Linked DNA regions of Homo sapiens: region 1 is linked to region 2. Evidence: fine-mapped expression QTL. A gene starts in region 2. The other region holds a variant in brackets. All regions are shown on one strand. Distances are between the middles of the regions.

Evidence for each region. PIP is the estimated chance that this variant, and not a neighbour inherited with it, causes the effect. A credible set is the group of variants that fine-mapping cannot tell apart.
Region 1: its variant is the best candidate, but not a certain one, in a credible set for the expression of MMACHC in liver (GTEx, PIP 0.67).

The regions. Positions count from the first base shown.
Region 1 is chr1:45,529,109-45,534,481 of GRCh38, forward strand. It overlaps the pseudogene HMGB1P48. Among named protein-coding and RNA genes, the nearest start is that of PRDX1, 9.9 kb to the left of the region's middle. The variant G/C (reference allele first, on the strand shown) is at 3,377.
Region 2 is chr1:45,497,607-45,502,979 of GRCh38, forward strand. MMACHC (metabolism of cobalamin associated C) reads left to right here and starts at 2,694. Exons shown (of 4, transcript NM_015506.3): 1 at 2,694-2,807. The coding sequence starts at 2,727. It overlaps CCDC163 (CCDC163 homolog), which reads right to left and starts at 2,467. Exons shown (of 5, transcript NM_001102601.3): 1 at 1,926-2,467; 2 at 1,739-1,837. The coding sequence starts at 2,003. RefSeq lists enhancers at 2,407-2,939, 2,489-2,688.

The DNA of each region.
Region 1 (5,373 bases), 32 kb after region 2:
TGTGTGCCTGTGGTCCTAACTAGTCCAGAGGCTGAGGTGGGAGGATTGCTTGAGTCCCAGAGCTCGAGGCTGCAGTGAGCCGAGATGGCACCACTGTACTCCAGCCTGGGTGACAGAGTGAGCAGAGTGAGACCCTGTCTCAAAAAATAATAAAATAAAATAATGGGAACCCAAATCACAAGACAGCACTCATTTTTCTTTTATTTATTTTATTTTTTTTGAGACAGAGTCTTGCTCTGCTGCCCAGACTGGAGTGCAGCAGCATGGTTTCGGCTCACTGCAACCTCCACCTCCTGGGTTCAAGTGATTCTTGTGCCTCAGCCTCCCAAGTAGCTGGAATTACAGGTATGTGCCACCATGCCTGACTGATTTTTGTATTTTTAATAGAGACAGGGTTACGCCATGTTGTCCAGTCTGGTTTCGAACTCCTGGTCTCAAGGGATTCACCCATCTCGGCCTCTCAAAGTACTGGGATTACAGGCTGAGTCACCACTACCGGGCTTATTTTTCATACAGATGATTTAGAATATGTTTATGTTAAATTTTTTTAGATTATCACTAAAAGAAAACAGTTGAATTCTTCAATTTACAAGGATTCAATTTTTAAAATTATATTTGAATGTACAGAGGCCTACAAATACCAATTTCAGAAACACTGTTATCAAGGATATCTATTTGTTAAAATTGAATGCAACTGAAAGTAACAGATTAACTGCAAATAACAAGCTTAACCAAATAGGGGATTAATTTTTCCCATTTAACAAGGAGACAGGGCCGGGCACAGTGGCTCACGCCTGTAATCCCAGCACTTTGGGAGGTCGAGGCGGGTGGATCACTTGAGGTTGGGAGCTCAAGACCAGCCTGACCAACATGGAGAAACCCCGTGTCTACGAAAAATACAAAATTAGCCGGACGTGATGGTACATGCCTGTAATCTCAACTACTCGGGAGGCTGAGGCAGGAGAATGGCTTGAACCTGGGAGGTGGAGGTTGCAGTGAGCCAAGATCGCGCCATTTGCATTCCAGCCTGGGCAACAAGACGAGCTCCGTCTCAAAAAAAAAAAAAAAAAAAAAAAAGCAAGTAGACAGGGCCAGGTGGAGTGGCTCATGGTTGTAATCCCAGCATTTTGGGAGGCCGAGATGAGAGGATCATTTGAGCTCAGGAGTTGGAGACCAGCCTGGGCGACATAGGGGTACCCATCTCTACAAAAAATTAAACAAACAAACAAAAAATAGCCAAACATGATGACGCATGCCTGTAGTCCCAGCTACCCAGGAGGCTGAGATGAGAGAATTGATTGAATCTAGGGGGTTTAGGCCACAGTGAGCCATGAATGCACCACTGCACTCCAGCCTGAGCAACAGAGCAAGACCCTGCCTCAACAAAAAAAAAGCAAAACAAAATGATAAAAAGCAAGTAAGGCAGGGCACAGTGGCTCACGCCTGTAATCCTAGCACTTTGGGAGGCCGAGGCAGGCAGATTACTTGAGGTCAGGAGTTCTAAACCAGCGTGGCCAACATGGTGAAACTTCGTCTCTACTAAAAATACAAAAAAAATAGCCAGGCGTGGTGGTGGACACCTGTAATCCCAGCTACTCTGGAGGCTGAGGCAGGATAATCGCTTAAACCCGGGAGGCGATCATGCCACTGCACTCCAGACTGGGCTACAGAGCAAGGCTCTGTCTCAAAAAAAAAAAAAAAAAAAAGAAGTAGACAGCTGTTACAGTATGTTAAGCTCCATAGAGACAGCACCAGGGCAAGTGAGAGCCTGACAGGCACAGGGTGACTCTGTGCCTCACTGAGGAAAAATAACTAGACATGAGCAAAGGAGATCCTCAGAAACCTAGAGGCAAAATGTCATCATATGCATTTTTCGTGCAAAACTTGTCGGGAGGAACATAAGCACCCAGAGGCTTCAGTCAGCTTCTCAGAGTTTTTTTTTTTTTTTTTTTAGATGGAGTCTTGCTCCCATCGCGCAGGCTGAAGTGCAGTGGCGCGATCTTGGCTCACTGCAACCTCTGCCTCCCGGGTTCAAGTGATTCTCCTGCCTCAGCCTCCTGAGTAGCTGGGATTACAGGTGTGCGCCACCATGCCTGGCTAATTTTTGTATTTTTAGTAGAGACAGGGTTTTTGCCATGTTGGCCAGGCTGGTCTCGAACTCCTGACCTCAGGTGATCCACCCGACTCAGCCTCCCAAAGTGCTAGGATTATAGGCGTGAGCCACCACGCCCAGCCAGCATTTTCTAAGAGTGCTCAGAGAGGTAGAAAACTGTATCTGCTAAAGAGAAAGGAAAATTTGAAGACATGGCAAAGGTGGACAAGGCCCGTTATAAAAAAGAAATGAAAACCTATGTCCCCCGTAAAGGGGAGATAAAAAGAAGTTCAAAGATCCCAGTGCATCCAAAAGGCCTCCTGTAGCCTTTTTGTCTTTCTGTTCTGAGTATTGCCCAAAAATCAAAGAACACCCAGGCCTATTCATTGGTGATGTTGCAAAGAAATTGGGAGAGATGTGGAATAACACTGCTGCAGTCGGGCATGGTGTCTCACGCCTGTAATCCCAGTACTTTGGGAGGCCGAGGTGGGCAGATCACGAGGTCAGGAGTTCGAGACCATCCTGGCCAACATGGTGAAGCCCTGTCTGTACTAAAAATACAAAAATTGGCCACTCGTGGTGGTGCACGCCTGTAATCCCAACTACTCGGGAGGCTGAGGCAGGAGAATCGCTTGAACCCGAGAGGCGGAGGTTGCAGTGAGCAGAGATCGCACCATTGCACTCCAGCCTGGGCAATAGAGTGAGACTCTGTCTCAAAAAACAATGACCAAAAAAACACTGCTGTGGATGGCAAGTAGCCTTATGAAAAGAAGGCTGAGAAGCTAAAGGAAAAATAGGAAATGGAAATTGTTGCATATCAAGCTAAAGGAAAGCCTGATATAGCAAAAAAGGGAGTCGTCAAGGCTGAAAAAACGAAAGAGAAAGAAGGAAGAGGAGAAAGATGAGGAAGATGAGGAGGAGGAAGATGAAGATGATTAATAAGTTGGTTCTATCACATTTTTTTTTCTGTCTAAAAAGCATTTAACCCTTCTGTATACAAATTACTCCCTTTAAAGAAAAAATTGATGCCGGGCGCGGTGGCTCATGCCTGTCTGTAATCCCAACACTTTGGGAGGCCAAAGTGGGCAGATCACCTGAGGTCAGGAGTTCAAGACCAGCCTGGCCAAAATGGCGAAACCCCATCTCTACAAAAATACAAAAATTAGCTGGGCATGGTGGTGTGTGCCTGCAATCCCAGGTACTCGGGAGGCTGAGTCATGAGAATCACTTGAATCCGGGAGGCAGAGATTGCAGTGAGCTGAGATCGCGCCATTGCACTCCAGC[G/C]TAGGCGACAGAGCGAGACTTCATCTCAAAAAAAAAAAAAAAAAGAAAAAAATTGAAAAGTAAGGCTGTGTAGGATTTGTTTTTAAACTATACAGTGTCTTTTTTGTATAGTTAACACACTACTAAATGTGTCTTTACACATTATCTTTTAGTTTTTCTAGAGACGGAGTCTTGCTCTGTTGCCCAGGCTGGAGTGCAGTGGCACCATCATAGCTCACTGCAGCCTGGAATTCTTGGGCTCAAGCAATCCTCTTACCTCAGGCTCCTGAGTAGCTGGGACTATAGATGGGTGCCACCACGCCTGGCTAATTTGAAAAAAAAATTTTTTTTTTTTGAGATGGAGTTTTGCTCTTGTTGCCCGGGCTGGAGTCCAGTGTCACCATCTCTGCTCACTGCAACCTCCGCCTCCAGAGTTCAAGCAATCCTCCTGTCTCAACCTTCTGAGAAATTGGGATTACAGGAGCTCGCCACCACACCAGGCTAATTTTTTGTATCTTTAGTAGAGATGGGGTTTCACCATATTGGCCAGGCTGGTCTCGAACTCCTGACCTCAGGTGGTCCGCCTGCCTTGGTCTCCCAAAGTGCTGGGCACCACGCCCGACCTAAAACATTTTTTTTTGTTGGCCAGGAGCGGTGGCTCACACCTGTAATCCCAGCACTTTGGGAGGCTGAGGTGGGTGGATCGTGAGGTCAGGAGATGGAGACCATCCTGGCTAACACAGTGAAACCCCGTCTCTACTAAAAATACAAAAAATTAGCTTGGCGTGATGGCAGGCGCCTGTAGTCCCAGCTACTCGGGAGGCTGAGGCAGGAGAATGGCGTGAACCCGGGAGGCGGATCTTGCAGTGAGCTGAGATTGCGCCACTGCACTCCAGCCTGGGTGACAGAGTGAGACTCTGTCTCAAAAAAAAAAAAAAAATTTTTTTTTGTTGTTTAGACAGAGACTCTTTATGTTGCCCAGACTTGTCTTCAATTCCTGGGCTCAAGCAGTCCTCCTCCTTTGGCCTCCCAAAGTGCTGTGACTATAGTTTTTTGATTAGAAAAAAAAAAAATACAAGTTAAAAACTGGTATGATCACTCCACACTGTATCAGGAACTCAGCTCACTGCAACCTCCAACTCCCTGGTTCAAGCGATTCTCCGGCCTCAGCCTCCCAAGTAGCTGGGACTACAGGCACGCACTGCCATGAGCAGCTAATTTTTGTATATTTAGTATAGATGGGGTTTCACCATGTTGGTCAGGATGGTCTCGATCTCCTGACCTCATGATCTGCCCGCCTCGGCCTCCCAAAGTTCTGGGATTACAGCCGTGAGTCTGGCCTACTTTTATTCTTATGATAACCCTATGGTCACAAAATGTCTGCTCTACTTCCAGCCTGGACAACATAGTAAGACCCAGTCTCCAAAAAAAAAATTTTTTAATTCATTTAAAAAATAAAAAATAAATGTATTTAAGTTGCTCTTTACCTGTCTTTTTTTTTAAGAGATGAGGTCTCACTATATTGCCCAGGCTGGTCTTGAAATCCTGGGCTCAAGAGATTCTCCCACCTTGGCCTCCCAAAGTGCTGGGATTACAGGTGTGAACTGCTACTCCCAGCCTACCTAATCTTTATTTGAACTTTTCTTTTCTTTTCTTTTTGAGATGGCATCTTGCTCTGTTGACCAGGCCAGAGTGCAGTGGCGCAATCTCAGCTCACTGCAACTTCTGCCTGCCAGGTTCAAGCAATTCTCCTGCCTCGGCCTCCCGAGTAGCTGGGATCACAGGCATGCACCACCACGCCTGGCTAATTTTTGTATTTTTAGTTGAGACAGGGTTTCGCCATGTTGGCCAGGCTGGTCTCTAATTCCTGACCTCAGGTGGGGACCTCTTGGCCTCCCAAAGTGCTAGGATTACATGCATGAGCCACCACGCCTGGCCTTTTTTTTGAGACGGAGTCTTGCTCTGTCACCCAGGCTGGAGTGCAGTGGCTCAATCTTGGTTCACTGTAAACCTCTGCC
Region 2 (5,373 bases):
CCTCCCAAAGTGCCGAGACTGCAGCCTCTGCCCGGCCGCCACCCCGTCTGGGAAGTGAGGAGCGTCTCCGCCCGGCAGCCACCCCGTCCGGGAGGGAGGTGGAGGGGGTCAGCCCCCCGCCAGGCCAGCCGCCCCGTCTGGGAGGGAGGTGGGGGTGTCAGCCCCCCGCCCGGCCAGCCACCCCATCCGGGAGGTGAGGGGTGCCTCTGCCCGGCCACCCCTACTGGGAAGTGAGGAGCCCCTCTGCCCGGCCACCACCCCGTCTGGGAGGTGTGCCCAACAGCTCATTGAGAACGGGCCAGGATGACAATGGCGGCTTTGTGGAATAGAAAGGGGGGAAAGGTGGGGAAAAGATTGAGAAATCGGATGGTTGCCGTGTCTGTGTAGAAAGAAGTAGACATGGGAGACTTTTCATTTTGTTCTGTACTAAGAAAAATTCTTCTGCCTTGGGATCCTGTTGATCTGTGACCTTACCCCCAACCCTGTGCTCTCTGAAACATGTGCTGTGTCCACTCAGAGTTAAATGGATTAAGGGCGGTGCAAGATGTGCTTTGTTAAACAGATGCTTGAAGGCAGTATGCTCATTAAGAGTCATCACCACTCCCTAATCTCAAGTACCCAGGGACACAAACACTGCCGAAGGCCGCAGGGTCCTCTGCCTAGGAAAACCAGAGACCTTTGTTCACTTGTTTATCTGCTGACCTTCCCTCCACTATTGTCCTATGACCCTGCCAAATCCCCCTCTGTGAGAAACACCCAAGAATGATCAATAAAAGAAAAACAAACCCAAAAAAAAAAAAAAAAAAAAAGAAGGCAAGGTCTTGACTATCCCTTACTCAGTCTGCAGCTCCTGAGGAAGGCCATTGGTAGTACTGCATTCTCCTGGTCCTGTTTGCATCTGGGCTTGGGCTTGGGCTTGGGTTTGCTCCCACACCTGGCTCTGAAGGCCCTGCAGTTCCTTTCTCAGCTCCTCCAGGCATTGCTCCAGGAGAAAAGCACTCCCCTTTGGGGCCCCCTGCAGCAACCTTAGTGATGCTGTAGTGGGACAAGTTAGGGATCATCCTCTCTAAGAGTTTCACAAGACCCTAGATACTCTACTTGCAAAACAAGACACATGTGCACACACAACAGGTGTGTGGCAAAATTGTGTGCATACATATGAAGCTGTGTATATGAAGAAAATAACTGGCCAGATACCTTCCAGGACACTGATCTGGTACTTCTGCTGCTCTCGCTCTTCTAGCAGGCCCTGCACTGCCTGCCTTAGTGCCTGTCACCTCCCCAGGCAGAAAAAAGCACATGAACTACTGTATAACAGCTTTTCCCGACCCCTAGTATCCTCATCTTACACAAACATCACATATACACACCAAGGATTCCAAGCCTCACCTGAGCCTGACATTGAAATTAGGATCAGAGAATAGCAACCTCACCCCAGAGAGAGGATGGGCTCTAGGACTCAGGGCAGCTCAGCCTTTGTGGAACTATGGGAGTCTCTAAAGCCCAAGGCTGTTGAGCTTGGACTCCTGACTGCAGAGGCAAGTGATGAGAGGAAATCCAGGTCCCAGCCAGGTCCCCGGCTGAGGAAATAAGGAAGGGTTAAGTGCAGGGTCTGTGTGGGGAAACAGAGTTCAGGAAAGGACAGAGTTGGAATTTGGAAGGAATAATGGATGATACGGGCACTGGAGGAAGGCACAGAAAGAGAAAGGGCTTGGAAGTAGAAAGAGACATTACTTACCTGCGGTGGAGACCCCAAGAAGATACAGCCACTGCTACAGAAGAAACAGATGCACAGGCCAATGAGCTCTGTGGAGACCCCAAGAGGATACAGCCACTGCTACAAAAGAAACAGATGCACAGGCCAATGAACTCTGAGAGTCCCTTAGCCTCCCCACGCAAACTGGGGACCTCCACCAACCCCTCACCTTATTCCGGACCACATTTCCATCAGTAGCGTTGAGAAGCACATCCAGCTGCTCAAACCAGCTGAGGCTCGTATTCATATCCTGTGGCAGGGGAGCGGCAGGGGTCTGGCTCCCTGGTGTCTTGTGCTTGCTCTCCTAGCGGGGGATACCCAAGGTATCCCCAGGAAAGGCCACCACGTTAGATGGAAAGAGGGAAGTGGGGATGCAACACTGGGGTAGGTGGATGCACTATCAGACCAAAACTGCGATCCTGTGACTAGGGAAAGGAAGGACGCTCTTGGGGAACTGGGGGAAAAGCGGGATACCGTGATGATACGCAGATATCAGGTGGGGATTGAAGGTGCCAGAACCTGGTTGAGACCTCCCCAGAAGTAGTACACTGGCGCCACCACGCCAAACCTGTGCCAGTGACAACTGCCGCCGCCGGGTTCAAAACTTCGGGTTGGTTTTGAAAGTCCGACTTTGGACTGGCTGCCGCAGCGCCACCTGGGAAACTGAGGTCGCCTCTTGCGAACACAACCGGCGATGGAGGCGGTGGAACTACCTTTCTCTAGAAGAGACACGTACATGCACACCCCCACCGTGTAGCTTGCCGGGAAACTGAGTCTTCCTGATTTCGTGTGGCTGTCTCCAAGGAGGAAACGAACTACGCATCCCAAGATGCATCGCGCATAGGCAATATGGTCCCGCTACTGGACCCATTTCCTACCTGGGAAATGGAGTCGAAGCTGACTCAAAACGTAACGGCCCAATTGTCCTTGAGACTTCATTCCCCAGCAAGCTCAGCGTGTAACGTGCGCTATGGAGCCGAAAGTCGCAGAGCTGAAGCAGAAGATCGAGGACACGCTATGTCCTTTTGGCTTCGAGGTTTACCCCTTCCAGGTTAGTTTATCCCTCCTGCTGTTCTAGGGCGAAATATATGATTGGCTTCGTTGCAACTGGCGTGAGGCCTCGGGAGCCTCTGATCCTCCTGGGTTCCTGCAGCCCAGTGTCCATGTGACAACAGGGACAGAGTTTCAGTGGGGGCTTGGGTTAAAAAGGTAGTGGTCGAGGCCGGGCATGGTGGCTCACGCCTGTAATCCCAGCACTTTGGGAGGCCGAGGCGGGCGGATCACCTGAGGTGAGGAGTTCGAGACCAGCCTGGCCAACATGGTGAAACCCCATCTCTACTAAAAATATAAAATTAGCCGGGCGTGGTGGTGCATGCCTGTAATCCCAGCTACTCGGGAGGCTGAGGCAGGACAATTGCTTGAACCCATGAGACGGAGGTTGCAGTGAGCCGAGATTGCGCCATTGCAGTCCAGCCTGAGCAACAAAGAGCGAAACTCCGTGTCAAAAAAAAAAAAAAAAAAAAAAGTTGTCGCATGTTTAACCTTTTGCCACCATATAATGCCGGATTCGTTAACGGGAGACACCATATGACCTGTAGCGTGTGTGGCTCAGATTGTCACCTATATAATTTACAAGAAGAAAGGGACCTGTGAGGCAAAGTCACCTTGGAACTTCCTAAAGGATTTAGGAGAGGGCAAAGCCTAGAAGGTTTGCATAGCTATCATTTAGGTCAGCTGAGGAAGGAAGGGCATTCCTGGTGATGAACAGGCAAACAATTGGCTGGTTTGTTCCCTCTACCAACAGAAGGATAATTCATGATATTTCCAGTCATCAGTGCTGGGCTGGGTAATGAAACTTTGTACACTTGCCTGGCACAGCAGTCTCAGCACCGCACCCCGACCCCCATTTACACGGTTACATTTCCCCACATCAGTGCCCTGTGCACTGAGCAGTTAAGTTACAAAGCTAAATCAGCTCAGCTTGAGCCCTTTGCCTGATGCTTAAGAGACTACCCACTTCCCATTCCTTCTGCTGAGTGGCTCACAGCAGTCCTGGGAGAGGATATAGAGGGAGAAGTAGGTTGGGTCTAGCTTGAGACTGGTCTTGCCAGAAAAAATGGAATTGAGCTATATATGAAAAGATAGATTGGAAGGAAGGAGGGTTATGTACATCCCAAATATCAGAAAAAGCTTGAGTAAAGGTGTGGAGATAGTGGTGTGGTGTTACCAAGTAAAAGGGCTTGATGCCTGATGTGCTGGAAGCTAATATTATGACACTGGGTTTTTGAGAAAACAAAAGCTATTTGTTGCAGATCGACCTTTAACTCTTTGAGACACCGTTTCAGTGGATGGCAGGTGTGTGGGAGAGTGAGAATGCCTATCTGGCAAGTTGAGTAGACCTGGGTATTAGGAGCTTTTGTACTGAACAAAGCCAACTGCAGCCCTGCCAGTCACCCTAGGCTCCTACCTCTCACCTCCCTACCCCCACATCCAATCAGCCACCAAGACCTATAAGACTGTCTACTGAATCTCCCAAATCCATTCCCTTGTATTCCACCCATCTATGCTGTGGTCCAGGCCACCATTTCTCACTTGGATTACTGTAATAACCTCCTTGCTGTAATTTTACCTCCAGTCCCTCCTCCACACTGCAGCCAGTGTGATCTAAAAATGATCATGCTAGTTTACTCCTTAAATCTTCAGTGGCTCTTCACTGTCACCAAATTAAATCCATATTCCTTAAATTGGTATTCAAAGCCAATCAAAATCTCACTCCTATTGATCTCTCCAGCCTTCTCTCCCTCTGATTCCCTCTACAGACCCTTCACTTCCACCAAACTAGACAATTCTCAAATATACCCAGGAATTTTCTGCCAGTGTGTTTGCTTATGCTGTGACTTGTTTATTTTATTCTTTATTTATTTAGAGACAAAGTCTCACTCTGTCCTCCCGGCCGGAGTGCAGTGGTGCAATCATAGCTCACTGCAGCCTCAAACTCCTGGGCTCAAGTGATCCTCCCACTTTAGTCTCCCAAGTAGCTGACTCCAGGCATGCACCAACACTCAGGGTCTCACTTTGTTGCCCTGGCTGGTCTTGAACTCCTGGCCTCAAGTGATCCTCCTGCTTCGGCCAGCCACCCAAAGCACTGGGATTACAGGCATGAGTCACCGCACTCAGTCTGTGACCTCTTTTTAAAATACACACCAGTGAGTTTATGTGTTTTTTGGTGAAATATAAATAATAAATAAATGCACACCAGATTCTCCTCCCTACATCAACCTGACAGTTGACCAGTTGACTTTCTAGCCTTCAAGACTTAGCATCCAAGGAAGCCTTTTCTTTTCTTTTTTTTTTTTTTTGAGATGGAGTTTCGCTCTTGTTGCCCAGGCTGGAGTGCAATGGTGCGATCTCAGCTCACCACAACCTCTGCCTCCCGGGTTCAAGTGATTCTCCTGCCTCAGCCTCCAGAGTAGGTAGGATTACAGGCATGTGCCAACATACCCGGCTAATTTTGTATTTTTTTTAGTAGAGACAGTTTCTCCATGTTGGTCAGGCTGGTCTTGAACTCCCGACCTCAGGTGATCTGCCTGCGTTGGCCTCCCAAAGTGCTGGAATTA